Linked DNA regions of Homo sapiens: region 2 is linked to region 1. Evidence: fine-mapped expression QTL. Tissue or cell type: breast. Region 1 holds a variant in brackets; the other region holds the start of a gene. All regions are shown on one strand. Distances are between the middles of the regions.

Region 1 (8,060 bases):
TCTGAACTGTAACTGACAGATTCCTAGGGGATGGGGTGGGAACCTGATTTTCATAGAGAACAGGCTGATGAAAATTGTTTAAATTAGGGCCAGGTGCAGTAGCTCACGCCTGTAATCCCAACACTTTGGGAGACCAAGGTGGGGCGGGGGGCAGATCACTTGAGATCAGGAGTTCGAGACCAGCCTGGCCAACATGGTGAAACCCCGTCTCTACTAAAAATACAAAAAAATTAACTGGGCGTGGTGGCGCACGCCTGTAATCCCAGCTACTTGGGAGGCTGAGGCAGGAGAATCACTTAAATATGGGAGGTGGAGGTTGCAGTGAGCTGAGATCGCACCACTGCACTCCAGCCAGGGTGACAGAGTGAGACTCCGTCTCAAAAAAAAAAAAAAAAAAAAGTTGTTTACATTAGGAAAAACAATGCTACTTTTTTTTTTTTTTTTTTGAGATGGAGTTTCGCTCTGTCGCCCAGGCTGGAGTGCAGTGGCATGATCTCGGCTCACTGCAAGCTTTGCCTTCTGGGTTCATGCCATTCTCCATCCTCAGCCTCCCAAGTAGCTGGGACTACAGGTGCCCGCCACCACACCCAGCTAATTTTTTTGTATTTTTAGTAGAGACGGGGTTTCACCATGTTAGCCAGGATGGTGTCGATCTCCTGACCTCGTGATCCGCCTGCCTCGGCCTCCCAAAGTGCTGGGGTTACAGGTGTGAGCCACCACGCCTGGCCAACAATGCTACATTTTAAACAGAAAGCTAAATTTAAGAGTTACATCATTACTTTTCTGAATTACATCATTTAAATCTAACCTTTGGGAGAATTCTGGAAGTTCTACCTGCTATTTGTAGGTGGCCTTCGTAGTGGACGATCCCGACGTGGGGCTTCAGGGTGGTGAACGGGTAGGAAGCCACGGCGGGTCTGGCGTTTGAAATGGCCCGGAGCAGTGAGGACTTCCCGGCGTTGGGGAATCCCACCTGGGGGAAAGAGGGAAGACGGTGGCACGGCCCGCGGCAGCACCTTTGTTAGCGCAGAGTCTGTAACTAACTGGGATTGGAGGGAGGATTTCAGGGCTGGGGGAGTCACAAGGGCTCATGCTCACGACCAAGTCAGCAGTGTACTGATGGGAAAAAGGTGAGTCGCAAAGCTGTTCTCTTCCAGGCCACTGGCAAATCCCCATTGAGAAAAGTGGATTTTCTAGAGCTGAGTGTGTGCAGATGCTGTTGGCAGTGGGGACACCTACCATTCCGGCGTGGGCCACCGTCTTGAGCTCCAGGTGGAGAACTCGCTGCTGTCCTGGCTGTCCAGGGGTACAGGTCACAGGGGCACGGTTGTTGTTGGCCAGGAAGAAGCGGTTGCCTTTCCCTCCTGCCCCGCCCAGCGCGGCAATGTACTCATCTCCCACGCAAGACAGGTCGGCCACAACTCTGCCTCCCTCCTTCACCAGCGTGCCCACGGGGACCTGGGGAACAGCAGGCACTCATCAGCTGAGCTCTACCAGCAGTGAGGAAAGGAGGCCTTAACCCATTCCTGAAGCAAGCGCTAAGGAAAGAAGACAAGAGCGGACTGTGCCCCGGGCAGCTGCCCGCCCCACTCACCTCTGCCAACAGCTCCGGAGCACAAGGAAAAGGTCCCAGTGCTCCAGGGCTTTCACGGGGCTGCGTACACACCCTTCTGACTGCACAAAGGGCTTTTTCAAATAGTGTTTCTAAAACGTTAGTGTGAACTGAAGCACCAGAAAAAACATCTAAGAGACGAGTGAATTCAGCTCGCGAAGGAGACGCAGGCCCGCTGGGTGCCAGTGGCCTCCCTCAGTCAGAGGTCGGCTCATGGGGTCAGAGACGGAGGAAGCGTCCGTGCCGTGGGCTCCCTCTTTTTAAAAGAGAATCGTTTCATGACTTTTTCACTAGACATGCACATGGTGTGAGACCCTGGTACAAATGCCCGTCTGGGTTTGCTTTGAGGGGTGGGGCTGCTTTCCCGCTGTCTGCCAGCCTCCGTTTCCATTGTGCTGTTTCCTAGCTGTGGGCATCAAGCCACAGGGGCCCCGTGGGTCACACGGTGGCCCCCAGGAGCTGGATGATCCAGAACAACGGGGACAGGGCCAGGTCCGGCAGTCTCGGCTCACCCGGATGTAGAGGACGGCGCCACTGCGCCCGAAGCAGTTTTTACTCCCTCCATCTTCTCCACTGAAACCCTGGTACCGCGACAGGACCGACGACAGGGACTTGACTTGCTGGTCAACTAAAGCAAGAACAAGAATCTCAGTCCCTTTGTGTTACGACAACCATGGCCTATTGCTGATGTGTCTGGGTCCAGTTTAAGAACCTTAAAAATAGGTATGGAAGCATGGAGTGAGGGTGCAGCAGAAGTTACAAAACCAGCAAAGTGATTTTTTAAAAATGAAATCCTTATTTTCCTTCAAAAAGTGCTATCATTTCTGAAAATTTTTAAATTTCTTATTTTTTACAGTAGCTGTATTCTATGCTTTTGTTGTGAAGGCTTCACTCCCAGCTCGCTATGCGTCTATGCTGAGTGTGAATATAACCAGCAGCCAGCGGCACCCACCGAACCCACCACACAGGCCTCGTGCTTTCACGCGACCGACATGTCAGCTTCCCTGACAGGAAACTCTCTGTGCTCCTGAAATTAAACAAACAAAACAAAACATGTTCAAAGTTGCTTTTTCTTTTTTTTTTTAGACAGAGTCTCGCTCTGTCAGCCAGGCAGGAGTGCAGTGGCATGATCTTGGCTCACTGCAACATCTGTGTCCTGGGCTCAAGCAATTCTCGTGCCTCAGCCTCCCAAATAGCTGGGATTACAGGCATCTGCCACCACGCCTGGCTAATTTTTCTATTTTTAGTAGAGATGGGGTTTCTCCATATTGGCCAGGCTGGTCTTGAACTCCTGACCTCAGGTGATCCACTCGCCTTGGCCTCCCAAAGTGCTGGAATTATAGGCATGAGCCACTGCGCCTGGCCTCAAAGTTGCTTTTTTGGGTGTGCTACTTAACTATGAATATCCATATAATTTTTTTTTTATGTTTTATGTTTTTATTTTTTTGAGACGGAGTTTCACTCTTGTTGCCGAGGCTAGAGTGCAATGGCACGATCTCAGCTCACCGCAACCTCTGCCTCCTGGATTCAAGCAATTCTCCTGCCTCAGCCTCCCTAGTAGCTGGGATTACAAGTGCCCACCACCACGCCCAGCTAATTTTTTTTGTATTTTTTGTAGAGACGGGGTTTCACCATGTTGGCCAGGCTGGTCTCGAACTCCTGACCTTAAGCGATCCACCCGCCTCGGTCTCCCAAAGTGCTGGGATTACAGGTGTGAGCCACCACGCCCGGCTGAATATCCATATAATTTATAAAAATGATATCCATACATCAGGGTTTTTTTTGTTTGTTTGTTTTGTTTTGTTTTTTTGAGATAGGGTCTTCCTCTGTTGGCCAGGCTGGAGTGCAGCAGCACAATCGGAGCTCACTGCAACCTCGACCTCCTGGGCTCAAGCCATCCTCCTGCTTCAGCCCCAAGTAGCTGGGACTATCAGTGTGTGCCACCACATCTGGTTATTATTATTATTTTTTAAGAGACAGGATTTCACCACGTTGGCCAGGCTGGTCTCGAACTCCGGACCTCAAGCGATCCACCCGCCTCGGTCTCCCAAAGTTCTGGGATTACAGGCATGAGCCACTGCGCCTAGCTGGGTTTTAAAAATTTTACTTTTTTTTTTTTTAGAGATAGGGTATTGCTCTGTCACCCATGCTGGAATATGCAGTGGTGTGATCACGATTCACTGCAGCCTTGAACTTCTGGGATCCAGCAATCCTCCTGAGTAGCTGGGACCACAGGTGCACGCTACCATGTCTGGCTAATTTTTTCAAAAATTTTTTGTAGATCCACAAACCTTGAGGCAAAAAAAAAAAAACAAAAAAACAAACAAACAAAAAAGACATGGTCTTGCTATATTGTCCAGGCTGGTCTTGAACTTATGGGCTCAAGTGATCCTCCTGCCTCAGCCTCTCCAAGTGCTGGGATCACAGGCATAAGCCACTGTGCCTGCCCATACATCAGGTTTTTAGTTCAAATGCACATGCAGTCTCGGGGCCCCTCCTCAACCCCGCTGCACTGCCCCAGGGCACCTGCCTCTCAGAATGACGTGTCCACCGTTGCCTCCGTCCCCTCCATCAGGGCCTCCAAACTCCTTGCGGGGCTCACTG[T/C]GGAAGCAGCTTGCCCCAGCGCCTCCGTTTCCTCCACAGACAAGCACTCTCCGATAGTCCACAAAGTACCTTTTCTACAGAGAACACAAATATCCCACGTCATCTCAACACTCCAAGGTCCTTTCAAGACACCATGCATCCATTTGAGATGTACATCTTCTATCTATAACAGCCTATTAAAATTAGAGGTTAATGACACTAATATTGCTAATCACTTCTAAATTCCGAAGATAAAAAACAGTCTCCACAAGTCAGTTGCATTTGTAGACTGAGGTAAATCCACAATGCAGATGTAAGTATTCTGTGTGGACCTACACTTCAAAAATTCAGCATTTCTTACTCTGGGTGAGACTGATTTAAAAACCAACAACAAAAATCAGCATTTCTAAGCTAAAAAACCCACATCTTGTTTAGGAAATATTCCTTATATAATGTGTCTTTCCATTCAAAAAAACCATTCCTGAAATCATAGATCTTTACTCTTAGAAAGTTCTAGTTTCCCAGGATGCGATAGAGAAATAGGAAGTTAGAATCGTTCCTGGACAATTACCAGGCTTTCGACTCTGAAGAAAGAGTATTTTCTGGGGCCTGATGAAAACAGGGCTCATTTAAAAAATGTGGTGAGGCAAACAGAGCCCCTCGCTGGAGGGAAAGCTGTTTTGTTTTTTGTGGTTTTTTTTGAGGCAGAGTCTCGCTCTGTCGCCCAGGCTGGAGTGCAACGGTGGGATCTCGGCTCACTGCAAGCTCTGCCTCCCAGGTTCATGCCATTCTCCTGCCTCAGCCTCCTAAGTAGCTGGGACTACAGGCACCCGCCACTGCGCCCGGCTAGTTTTTTGTATTTTTAGTAGAGACGGGGTTTCACCGTGTTGGCCAGGATGGTCTCGATCTCCTGACCTCGTGATCCACCCGCCTCGGCCTCCCAAAGTGCTGGGACTACAGGCGTGAGCCACTGTGCCCGGCTAGGAAAGCTGTTCTGTAGGTCACTAAGGTAGGTGCAATCTGGATGAAGAGAGAGAACCAACCAGGTTACTGTTCAACACACAACAGCTCCTACCACAGGAGGGTCAGCTCCCGCAGCCCAGGGTGCTGCAACCTCACCACACGCTGGGGAGGACACCTGGCTTCTGCCCACGTGCACAGACAGACGTGCCCTGCCCCTGACAGCCACCCAGGGCTGCTGCCTCTGCACTCCGATCCAATACTCCTCAAATGCAGTTTTTTTTTCTTTTAAAAGAAAATTTTAAAACATTTAAAATTTTTAAACACAAAAATTTAAACACAAAAAAAAATTTAAAAATTTAAAACACAAACATTCTAAGATTCTTTGGCACCACCATGTGGGAAAACCACGAACTGTTATTTCCAAATTTCAATGTGTAATGCTGTCATGCGCCAACGCAAGCAAAATCCACCAGACAGGGAGGAAAGCCCCACTGGTGAGCACTTCGTGGAGGACAAAACCTCGACTCACTTTCTCTCCTGGGGAGGAGACAAGCCTGTGCTAACGCTTCAGCTATTTGAGCACACATCCCACCAAAGCGGCTTTTCCACTGGAAGTGCTGTTTGTCCCAGTAATGCTTATCTGGAGCCCCTCCATTCAGCAGGAAACGAAGGGAGTCATAAACGTGCATTTTCTTGAATTTATTAGAGACAATTCATGCTTTAAATAGGAGGTTTTGGTAAATAGAACAAGAAAAACTTATAAGGCTTAAAGAACCATAAAACGGAAGGTATATTCCCCCCTACTTGTTTTATTTTTATTTATTTATTAATTTAAAAAGGTTTTTTTTTTTTTTTTAGTAGAGACAGGGTTTCACCATGTTGGCCAGGCTGGTCTCGAACTCCTGACCTCAAGTGATCCGCCTGCCTTAGCCTCCCAAAGTGTTGGGATAACAGGCATGAGCCACCGTGCCCAGCCTCCGCATTTGTTTTAAATTAAGAAATAGCCACACATATGAAAGGATATATGTAACATACATGTAAAATACACAGGCTCATGGGAAAATGAGCAGCCTGTATCACGGCTTTCCAAGCACGCAGCGCCTCTCCCAGCCTGCTGGGATTTGCTGAGCGTGGGATTTAGCACGCAGGCCTGCGTTTCACCCTGTCATTTTCAAGAAGCTCCACGTGCCCCATCACTAAGATCATCAACTAACATCAACAGAGATGAGACCCAGAGGAGGACCCGAAACCACACCCTGTGCCTTCTGAGGAGGAGACAGGCAAGCTGCTCTAACTCCAGGAGTCTCACCAGCTTTTTCTCAGAGAGCAGCTTCTTCCCCGGGAGTTCCTGATGCTTGGCGAGGTCCGCACGGCCGACCGAGAGCAGCCTGGGAGAAGCCCGCTGTGGCAGTAGCCGGCTGGGCTTCAGGCCAGCCCATGTGGACAAAGCCCAATGCCCCACGCCCTGAAACACGGTCCTCAATCTTGCTGAGAAACACCTTGCAGGTGCCATGGCCCCTACAGAAGTCAAATTGGCAAAATGAGATACTTGGTTTAATGCTGGGCATGAAACAGAAACTGAAGACGAGGGCCTCATGCAGCAGGTCTTTGTGCACGTTTCTGAAACAAACAAGTGAACTGATGAATCCGATTTTCCTGGTCACTCACCCTCTCGGCCCTGGGTCACGTCTTGCCCTCTGACCCGTCAGCCTATCTGTGACTTGGGAGCAGGATTTCTGTACAAAGGATTTAAAACATGAAATCTTCCACAACACTGGACACATCCTCTTATGGAATAGCAAGGTTCCGCTCAACGAAAATATTAAAAAGGAAATCTGAAGTGCAAGTCAAAATTTCTTGAAAAGAAAAACACCCATTTATTAAAATGTTATCAAGAGTGTTATCCTGTGTAATTTTAAAGTTGTTACATTGGAACACAAGAATATTAAACATGGGGCATAGCGGCTAAGCACCCAGGCTCTGGAAAGTAACTCTAAGGGAAGGCCATCCACCTGTGTGGCCTCGGCCTCCTCACACGGCTGGGTGAGGACGGGCTGAGCTGATCCACACGGCTGCACAACCGCGGCCCTGGCTGTGGCACCGATAGAATGAGAAGAACACACTTGGCCCCTGCTCCTGGCTCCTGACACAGAGCTCTCAGAACGCTGGTAATTTCCTGAGTGACAGGGGCGATAGGGGTGCCTGACACAGAGCTCCTAAATCCCTTGGACTTCCCAGGTGACAGGAGAGTCTTCTGTTCTAATGAGGCACCTCTTGGTGGGCTCCTGGATGGCCTTGGGAGGGGGCTGGTCATCATAAAGACCAAGCCACGATGAGAAGCCTGGACCTTTCGGCCCCACCCCCACCCTCCAAAAAGGGCAGAGGGGCTGGAGGCTGAGTTCATAACTGATCATGTCTCCATGATGAGGCCTCCATGGAAATCCTGGAACTAGGGGCTCTGGAAAGCTTTCAGTTTGGTGAACTCATCCCCGTGCTGTAAGGCCAGCCACACAACTCCCTGGGGACAAAGGCTCCTATGCTTAGGACCCTCTGGGCCTCGCCCGTGCCCCTCCTCACCCAGCTGCCTGCCTGTGCCCGCTGTGGCATCCTTTATAGTAAACTGGCAATGCAAACCAAGTGCCTTCCTGAGTTCTGTGAGCCACTACCGCAAATCATCAAACCTGAAGGGGTCGTAGGAACTCCCAATGTGTAGCCAAGATGGACAGAAGTGTGGGTACCCCAGGGACCCACTACTTGCAATTAGCATCTGAAGTGGGGGGTGACTGAGCCCCTAACGCTGGGGTCCCTGATAACCGCGGCAGGGTCAGACTGAACTGAATTACAGGATGCCTGGCTGGTGTCTGCAGAGGACTGGCGAATTGTTGGTGTGGAAAACCCACAC
Region 2 (8,060 bases), 52 kb after region 1:
GCCGAGCCTCCCTCACCTGACCGAAGACAGCAAGGAGGCCGAGCCTCCCTCACCTGACCGAAGAGAGCAAGGAGGCCAAGCCTCCCTCACCTAAGACAGCAAGGAGGCCAAGCCTCCCTCACCTGACCTAAGACAGCAAGGAGGCCGAGCCTCCCTCACCTGACCTAAGACAGCAAGGAGGCCGAGCCTCCCTCACCTGACCGAAGAGAGCAAGGAGGCCAAGCCTCCCTCACCTAAGACAGCAAGGAGGCCAAGCCTCCCTCACCTGACCTAAGACAGCAAGGAGGCCGAGCCTCCCTCACCTGACCTAAGACAGCAAGGAGGCCGAGCAAGGCCGGTGGCTGCGGGGTCCCTCCCCGGGGCTGAGCCCAGGCTCCGGAATGAGGGGACCCAACCCCCCTATCCCTGCGGATGTAAAGACAGGCCCCCATGCTCCCCTTCTCGGGTGGGGGGAGCCTCTGATCGCAGGAGGAACGCTGTCAATCAGCCACATGCAAGGGAGGCTCGGCATCCCCAAGCCATTCAGTCACTGGACAGCTTTAACCTTACAAACACTCCTAGCCAAATTAGCTTGCGTTCCTTCAGACAGCAAGTTCCACTTCTGAGGGAGCACACAGGGTGCCCACTGCCTACTGGGTGTGCACCCCATCCTCCGCAGCCCATCCCCACCCAGAAGTGCGCCCCTTGCCCATGCCCCACCCCCGCACCTGGGTACCAAGGACATGGGGTAGGGCTGGTCCAGCTTCAACAACTCCCTGGCTCTCGGACCCTGGGCACGGCACTAACCCACCCCACGAAGGTCTTGTCTTCCCACACCAAACCCACCCAGCAGGCGGCCCCAGGGGCCCACCTCCTCTCAGCTCCATCCCATTCCCTCAGAGCCTTTCCCCAACCCTGCCCCGCAACAGGTGCTGGGGATCCAGACACCCAGCAGACAGGCAGACACCACTGCTATTATCCGGCCAAGGAAACCAATGAGAAAACCAATACAAACAGAAACAGTAACACATTTATTGAGCAATTACTGCATGCCAAGCAGCAAAGAGGCAACTCAGGGGTCCCCTTCAAGCCTGGCCACATGGTCCGAGGTGACCACTGCAGGCCCAGCCCCAACAGCAGCGTAAGGAGCACGCACTGGACAACAGAACACTACAGTCCCCAGCTGGTGGCTAGAGAACACCCAGCCAGGCCCAGGGCCACCGTGGGGACATGGCCCAGCCCCACCGCAGGGTTCCCCAGCACAGTCATGTCCTCTGTGGTGCTTGCCACAGAGCAGTTCTGACTGTCTCACCCACACACTGCTGCCTGGTCACCACCAGCTACCCTCCCCACATCAGCCCAGCACCCCCTGCCCTTCCACTTTAGGTCCCCCAATACCTGCTCCATGCAGGCCAGGCTCGGGACCCTCTGTGACTCCCTGCCCCTGCCCCATGGTTCTCTTTCTCTGGGATAGCCCTCACCACAAACGCACTCTCGTGGGCTAAACTGTACCCAGACCCCTGGTGCCTGCGCATGGGAGGTACTGGAAATGAGGTATTTGAAAATGAAATAAAGACGGGGTCATGCTGGATTAAGGTAGGCCCTAAAACCAGTGACTAGAGTCCTTATAAAAAGTGGGAAATTGAGGCCAGGCATGGTGGCTCATGCCTGTAATCCCAGCACTTTGGGAGGCTAAGGGGGGGAGGGGGCAGATCACTTGGGGTCGGGAGTTCAAGACCAGCCTGGCCAACACAGAGAAACTCCGTCTCTACTAAAAATACAAAATTAGCCGGGCGTGGTGGCACGCGCCTATAATCCCAGCTACTCAGGAGGCTGAGGCAGGAGAATCGCTTGAACCTTGAACGTGGGCGGGGGCGCGGAGGTTGTGAGCCCGAGATCGCGCCACTGCACTCTAGCCTGGGCAACAAGAGCGAAACTCCATCTCAAAAAAAAAAAAAAAAAAAAATGATCAAAGCAGAGACACGCTGGATGCACCTACAAGCCAGAGAACACCAAGGGCTGCCCGCAGTCATCAGAAGCCAGGAGAAGAGCAGGTAACTGACCCCTGGACTTGGGACTTCTGGTCTCCAGAACTGTGAGGGAATAGATTTCTGTTGTTTGAAGCCACCTGGGTTGTGGGAATGTGTCAAGGAAGTCACAGGACACGAACGCATCTGCTTATCTCAAAACGCTTCCACTGATGGGACCAGCGTCACAGATGATCCAGCACGTGCTCAGCACTAACTGTGCTCAGACACTATGAGAGGCTGGGGATCAGCAAAGAATAATCAGTCACATGCCAAACTCAGGAGCTCAAGCAAGTGCTACAAGGGCCACATGACTGCCGACGGAGCATGAGACGCGGAACACGTGAGTGAGGCTTTGAAGGTTGAGTAGAAGTTGGCCTGGAAGATCTCCACCCACACAGAATGCTGTAAGGACAAGGTGTAGACCTCTTTCTCCTTCACTACCAAGCAGAATGCTGTAAGGACAAGTTGTAGACCTCCTTCTCCTTCACTACCACGCAGAATGCTGTAAGGACAAGTTGTAGACCTCTTTCTCCTTCGCTACCACGCAGAATGCTGTAAGGACAAGTTGTAGACTTCCTTCTCCTTCACTACCACGCAGGCTTCAGAGGGGTCCCTGGCTTCTCTTAAAGCTCTCGGCATGACACTACCAGCACACACTGTGGACACAGCACACGTCTGAGGCATAGAACATACACCTCTCACACCTTTCTCAGCCTTCTCACACCTCCCAGTAAAAGATCCCTGGGTACATATATTCACCGTCAAAACACCAAGCCCAATACGCAGACTGCTGGCCCTACCAAGCCAAGTCAGCAGCCTAAACTGAAGGCCTATTTCCAATGGTCAGCAGGCTGAGTTTCTGCCCAGGGACCCACGGTCCACAGGTGCATTTCTTCCTTTCTGATCTGATGTTCGGGGCAGCACCTCAATACACACTTTTACCTGGAGAATTTGGGGAGCTTCAATGGAACTGTGTGCGAAGTGCAAATAATGGGATAAACGTTGCAGCCAAAGGTAGCTTCAGGAACAATGACTGTTAAGCTCCAAAAAACCAGAGTGCCAGGAGATGCTCTGGGTTCCAACATTTGCCTCTGAGCCTAGAGCTTGACCTCCGCCTGGCCAAATGTTCCCAGATCAAGGGGCACCAACAGAGCAGACCCTGGAGCCACCGTATGGGATCGACACCTGGCTGTGCCACTTACCAGCAAGGCATTTAGCCCCCCTAGGCCTCAGTGTCCACTTACCAGCAAGGCACGGCCTCCCTAGGCCGCAGCCTCTTTAGCTATTAAACGGGATGCCAGTAGCTTCTATGAAGAATTGGATGAATCAAGATTTATAAAACCCCTAGAACAGTGTCTGGGATACGGTAAGCGCCACATAAGTGTTTACTAAGTAAATTAAAATGCCACACTTGTAAATCTGTATTTCTGCTATTCTCAATCTCTCCTGTTCAGAGTTGGCCAAGGTTCTCATTTGTTAAGACCATCAAATTTCTAAAACTAGCAACAGCAAAGGTAGTCTCAAAATAGGCGATAGATTTAGGACAACTTCCACAGGAGACTGGCACGTCATCAAGGAATAACAGCCTCAGTCAAGGTCAAGGTGAACCCCCTTAGGGAGACAAGCGGCTCCTGGGAACCTAGGAATACCACTGTTTATCCCTGCAATCCCACCAGGGTGAAGACGGAGTCAGAGTTTAGGAAAAAAAACCAATGTCATTCCAACAGATGTTGTGACAACTGAAACGGGTATGGCTAATGCTGATTTTCTTCCGAATCTGTCTTCTACAGAAAAAACAGCAGAAAATACAAAGTCTCAATTTCAAAACTTAGGGCTTTGGATAACGGTGTCCCAAACCCACATAAACGCTGTCTCTTGAAAACCACAAGGCCGAACTTACGGAGCTAGAAGAAAGGTTGTGGAGCAAATCCGTCAAGTTTGTTAGGCGAGGCGGCTGGCGAGGGTGTCACGCTGAAACCCGGCGTAGCCGCGAGGATACGGAGGGGGCGGTGCGCTCCCTACGGGGCCGGGCTGCGTAACGATGCCCCGCAAATGGGGATCGGGACGCGTCCTTCCGTGCCTCCATCGTTCGCGCCTCGCTCCAGGAGCAAGAGGGGCAGCCCCGGCCACAGTCCCCGCGGTCGCAAGTGCGCCCGGAGGCCGACCCGGGCCCCTCACCACTAACCAAAATGAGCGCAGAAAACGAGTACCGCCCGCCGTCGCCACCGAAGCTGGCTGCGGAGCGCGACAAGCCCTCGCCGCGGCTCCGGCCCCGAGGGGTCCCCGTGCGCCCGGCATAGCCCAGGACAGTTCCCAGCGCGCGCCGCGGACTCGGGGGACAGCGCGCTCGGGGGCCGGCAGCCTCCAGCGTCCGCCCGGCCCCCACCGCCCAGTGCCCCGGCCCGAGGGACCCGCGCGCCCCAACAAAGTTGGCGCAGGCTCTCCGGGGACCGCCCCCCACACGGCCGGGTGCCCGCCGGCGCGCAGGCGTGGGACGCGGGGAAGGGCACGGGGCCGCCGTCGGGGCTCGCGGCCGCCCGGCTGCGCCCCGGCTTTGTTCGCGCCCCGCGCCCGCCAGCTGCCCGCGCCCCGTCCCCGCGCGCGCCCGCCCGCAGACCCGCCGCCCAGCGCCGCCGCTCCGGCCCGGCCCACCTTCTGGATGGTTTGCTGCGTAACCTCCCCTTTGCCTCTTGGCCGGGCAGACGCGAAGGCCACGGACATGGTGGCGGCGCGGGGCTCAGCCCGTGGTCATCGAGGTGGATACTCCGGCTGCGCTGGGCGGCCCGAGGCGCTCATTATCCGCAGTCGCGGAGGGGGGGAAGGGGGCGGGAGCGCGGGGGGCGCCGCGTCGTGGGCTCGTCCGCCCCGTCGCCGTCGCCGCGCCTCCGGGCCCGCGGCGCCGCCGCTCCGCCCTGCAGAACGGTCTGCGGCCCAGTGCCGAACGGTGGCCCCCGGCGACCCCCTCGCACCCAGCGCCCGGCCCTCGCCGGAGCACCGCCTCCCACCCCCGGCCACCGGTGGTTCGGCCTGACCCCGCCCCGGCGCGCGCCATCACGTCCGCCCGACGCCGCCTGACGCTGCCCGTCGCCGCCTGACGCCGCCCGTCGCCGGCAGCGCAGGACACGGCGCCGAGGGTGGGGCGCGGGCGTAGTGGCGCCGGGAGTCGCGGGTGCGCGCGGGCCGTGAGTGTGCGCTTTTGAGAGTCGCGGCGGAAGGAGCCCGGCCGCCGCCCGCCGGCATGAGCTACGACCGCGCCATCACCGTCTTCTCGCCCGACGGCCACCTCTTCCAAGTGGAGTACGCGCAGGAGGCCGTCAAGAAGGGCTCGACCGCGGTGAGGCGGCGGGGCCTGCGCGGGGCCGGGGACGCGGGCGGAAGTGGGGCTGGGGAGCCCAGAGAGGGCCGGGGCCGGGCGCGGCGCTGTGGGCGCCCGCGGGCGTGCGCGGGGCAGCGGCGCGGGCGGTCAGGGCTGTAGCTGAGCGCGGGCCCCGCTGCCGGTCTCCACGAGTGCCTGCAGAGGCGGCGTTTGGCGTGAGCCGCGAGCGCTCGTTCTCCCCACTCAGCGCCTCGCTTGGGGCCCGGCCTCGCGTGGGGCCCCGGGCACGGGGGCCGTGACGACGCCATCTTGAGCACCCCTGGCCCCGGCCGGGCGCGTGGGTCGCGCCGCCGCCCCGGCGAGCAGAGGCCGGGCGAGGGCCGCTCTGGGCCGCGGAGCGCGGGGGGTAGGCCGTGCGCTCGCTGGGGGGCTGTTCACGCAGCCGGGTGGCTGGGGAGCGAACTACTCAAACCCCCCTTATGGGGACCCCCACCCGCTCCGGGGCAACACTTATTCTCTAGGCCCAGGTGGGCTTCGAGAACAAAGCGGCTCGCTGGCCTGGCCGGTGGCGGGCGCCTCCCAGGTCTCCGCACTCTGCCGGGAGGAGCCTTCCCGGGGCCGGGCTGCAGCCGCCCGGGTCAGGACTGGTTTGGACGCGGCCGTTTCGTTTTGACGAGGGCTCGTGTACATTGACCTTAGTGACATTGTTTGAAACTTAAATTCGTACCATCAAGACGTGTCAGTTTAATTGGTCAGTCTGTGAGATCGTTATTCTTTTATCATCTGGTATTCAGAGGTTTGAGCAGGCAGAGAAAGCAGCACACACGGTTCTGTAAATTTTGATTTGTTTTCATTTTCTGAATCTTTGTTTTGAAATGAAGGCCCAGTATTCATCAGGTGATCTAACTCAGCTTAAAGAGGACTAGGAGTCGGCTGACCCCTGTACCCACCCCAATACTGCCACCCCCGCCAGCTGGCCGCCGCTGGCTTTAACGAACCCATATAGCTTCTCTGGGCCTCGAGTCAGTCGAAGGTCAAGTGAGTCAGTACCTGAGAAAGCTCCCAGAAAACCCAAACACTTCAGATCAATACTTCTCAGCCAGGGATGGTTTTGGGCCCACACGGAGCCACTGGCAGTGTGTGGAGACTTTTCCAGTGGTAAGACCTTGCAGAGGTGCTCTTGGCATTTGGAGGGTAGAGGCCAGGGACGCTGCTCAATATCCCACCCGTGCTCAGGGCGGCAGGCACAGGGAGATCCCCCTGCCCAGGTGCTCACAGTGCTGAGCTGGAGAAGCCCTGCTCTAAACCAGGAGGCGCTGTTTATCCCAATGATGGTTCCCTTTGTTTCTGGCTTGACTCGGGTTGACTGTCAGTGATTGTTCATGCTTTTAATAACAGCCATATCCTTCTCCAGCATCAGCCATAAACAGTTTGGGATAACACTTGACACCTTGTCCACTGACGGCAAATCAGGCCCCTTCTCATGGCTGTCACATGAGTATGTCACAGTGCAGGAAACAGTGCATTGTGGCTCAATATAATTTCACAACTACAGAAACACTGCCTTCAGAACACCAGACTTGAGTGAAAGTCTCAGGCTTCCAGGCTTTGCATGGGACTGATTCATTGGGTTGAAAGGAAACACATGCCGATTATATAATGGTTACTTACTAGCTATGTTGTAACTAAAACTACATCTCAGTATTTGAAAGGCCCAGGTTGGGCACCTAGGTGAGCACGCCTGGGCTAGCTCTACCAGCAGTAGATGAATACCCCTGGGTTTGCAGGATGTGGTGCCAGCCACAGTGACAGACAAGTAGAGGAGAAAGGGGTGTGGGTGAACGCACCTTCCAGTGGGAGCTGCTACCCGGAGTACGTACCCCCCAGGACCCAGGTTCAGATCTGCTCCTACTGCTCGCTGCCTGGCAGTAGAACCATGTATCACTTTTTTGGGAGGATAGGGTGGGGTGAGGGGACAGGGTCTTGCTGTCTCTGTCTCCCAGCCGTCATGGCTCACTGCAGCCTCCACCTTCCAGGCTCTAGCGATCCTCCCACCAGCCCCCACAGTAGCTGGGACTACAGGCTTCAGCCACCACACCTGGCTAATTTTTGTACTTTTTGTAGAGACAGGGTTTTCCCATGTTGTCCGGCTGGTCTTGAACTCTTGAATTTAAGTCATCCACCCACCTCAGCCTCCCAAAGTGCTGGAATTAACAGGCATGAGCCACTGCACCCAGCACTCATATCACTTTCTTACGTGGTTTGTGGATCTTAATTAAAGGTTGGTGTTCGAGGAAGAGACATTGTTGTTCTTGGTGTGGAGAAGAAGTCAGTGGCCAAACTGCAGGATGAAAGAACAGTGCGGAAGATCTGTGCTTTGGATGACAACGTCTGCATGGCCTTTGCAGGTATGAGTCGGTGGGGAGCGCTGTCTTACTCTCTAGAGTCTCAGCGAAGAATAGGGCTTTGGAGATTAACTTGGGTGTGTGGGCTATTGTGAGCCATATAAACTGAGTAAATGAAAATCATTTAAAAGAATTGGATTTGGACTTTTAAGTTGGCTAGTTTCTTTGGTGGCCTCTCTCTGCCATAGCAGGTGAAACAAATGGCTAAATGGATGAAAACACTTCTGGCTGCTGCGCAATTTGACCTCCACTGTTATTTTTCTGTATCAATCAGTTACAATCTAGAGAAAGGCTGGACTTTCTAGAGCTAACTGCATCTGTGGCATGGAG

Alleles and levels. Alleles are on the strand shown, and positions count from the first base shown. SD is a standard deviation of normalised expression in the study named.
In carriers of allele T in region 1, the expression in breast of the gene that starts at base 4,782 in region 2 tends to be lower than with C alone (moderate effect, 0.66 SD a copy in GTEx).

The links. PIP is the estimated chance that this variant, and not a neighbour inherited with it, causes the effect.
Region 2: SS18L1 starts here. The variant in region 1 is fine-mapped to the expression of SS18L1 in breast (GTEx, PIP 0.97).

Annotation. Positions count from the first base shown.
Region 1 is chr20:62,192,032-62,200,091 of GRCh38, reverse strand. It overlaps MTG2 (mitochondrial ribosome associated GTPase 2), which reads right to left. Exons shown (of 7, transcript NM_015666.4): 2 at 6,468-6,676; 3 at 4,143-4,290; 4 at 2,125-2,240; 5 at 1,240-1,458; 6 at 835-973. The coding sequence starts at 6,671. Among named protein-coding and RNA genes, the nearest start is that of MTG2, 13 kb to the right of the region's middle. The variant T/C (reference allele first, on the strand shown) is at 4,217.
Region 2 is chr20:62,140,491-62,148,550 of GRCh38, reverse strand. SS18L1 (SS18L1 subunit of BAF chromatin remodeling complex) reads right to left here and starts at 4,782. Exons shown (of 11, transcript NM_198935.3): 1 at 4,662-4,782. The coding sequence starts at 4,730. PSMA7 (proteasome 20S subunit alpha 7) reads left to right here and starts at 5,157. Exons shown (of 7, transcript NM_002792.4): 1 at 5,157-5,343; 2 at 7,607-7,733. The coding sequence starts at 5,248. RefSeq lists silencers at 4,306-4,355, 4,386-4,445, 4,566-5,275, 5,316-5,955.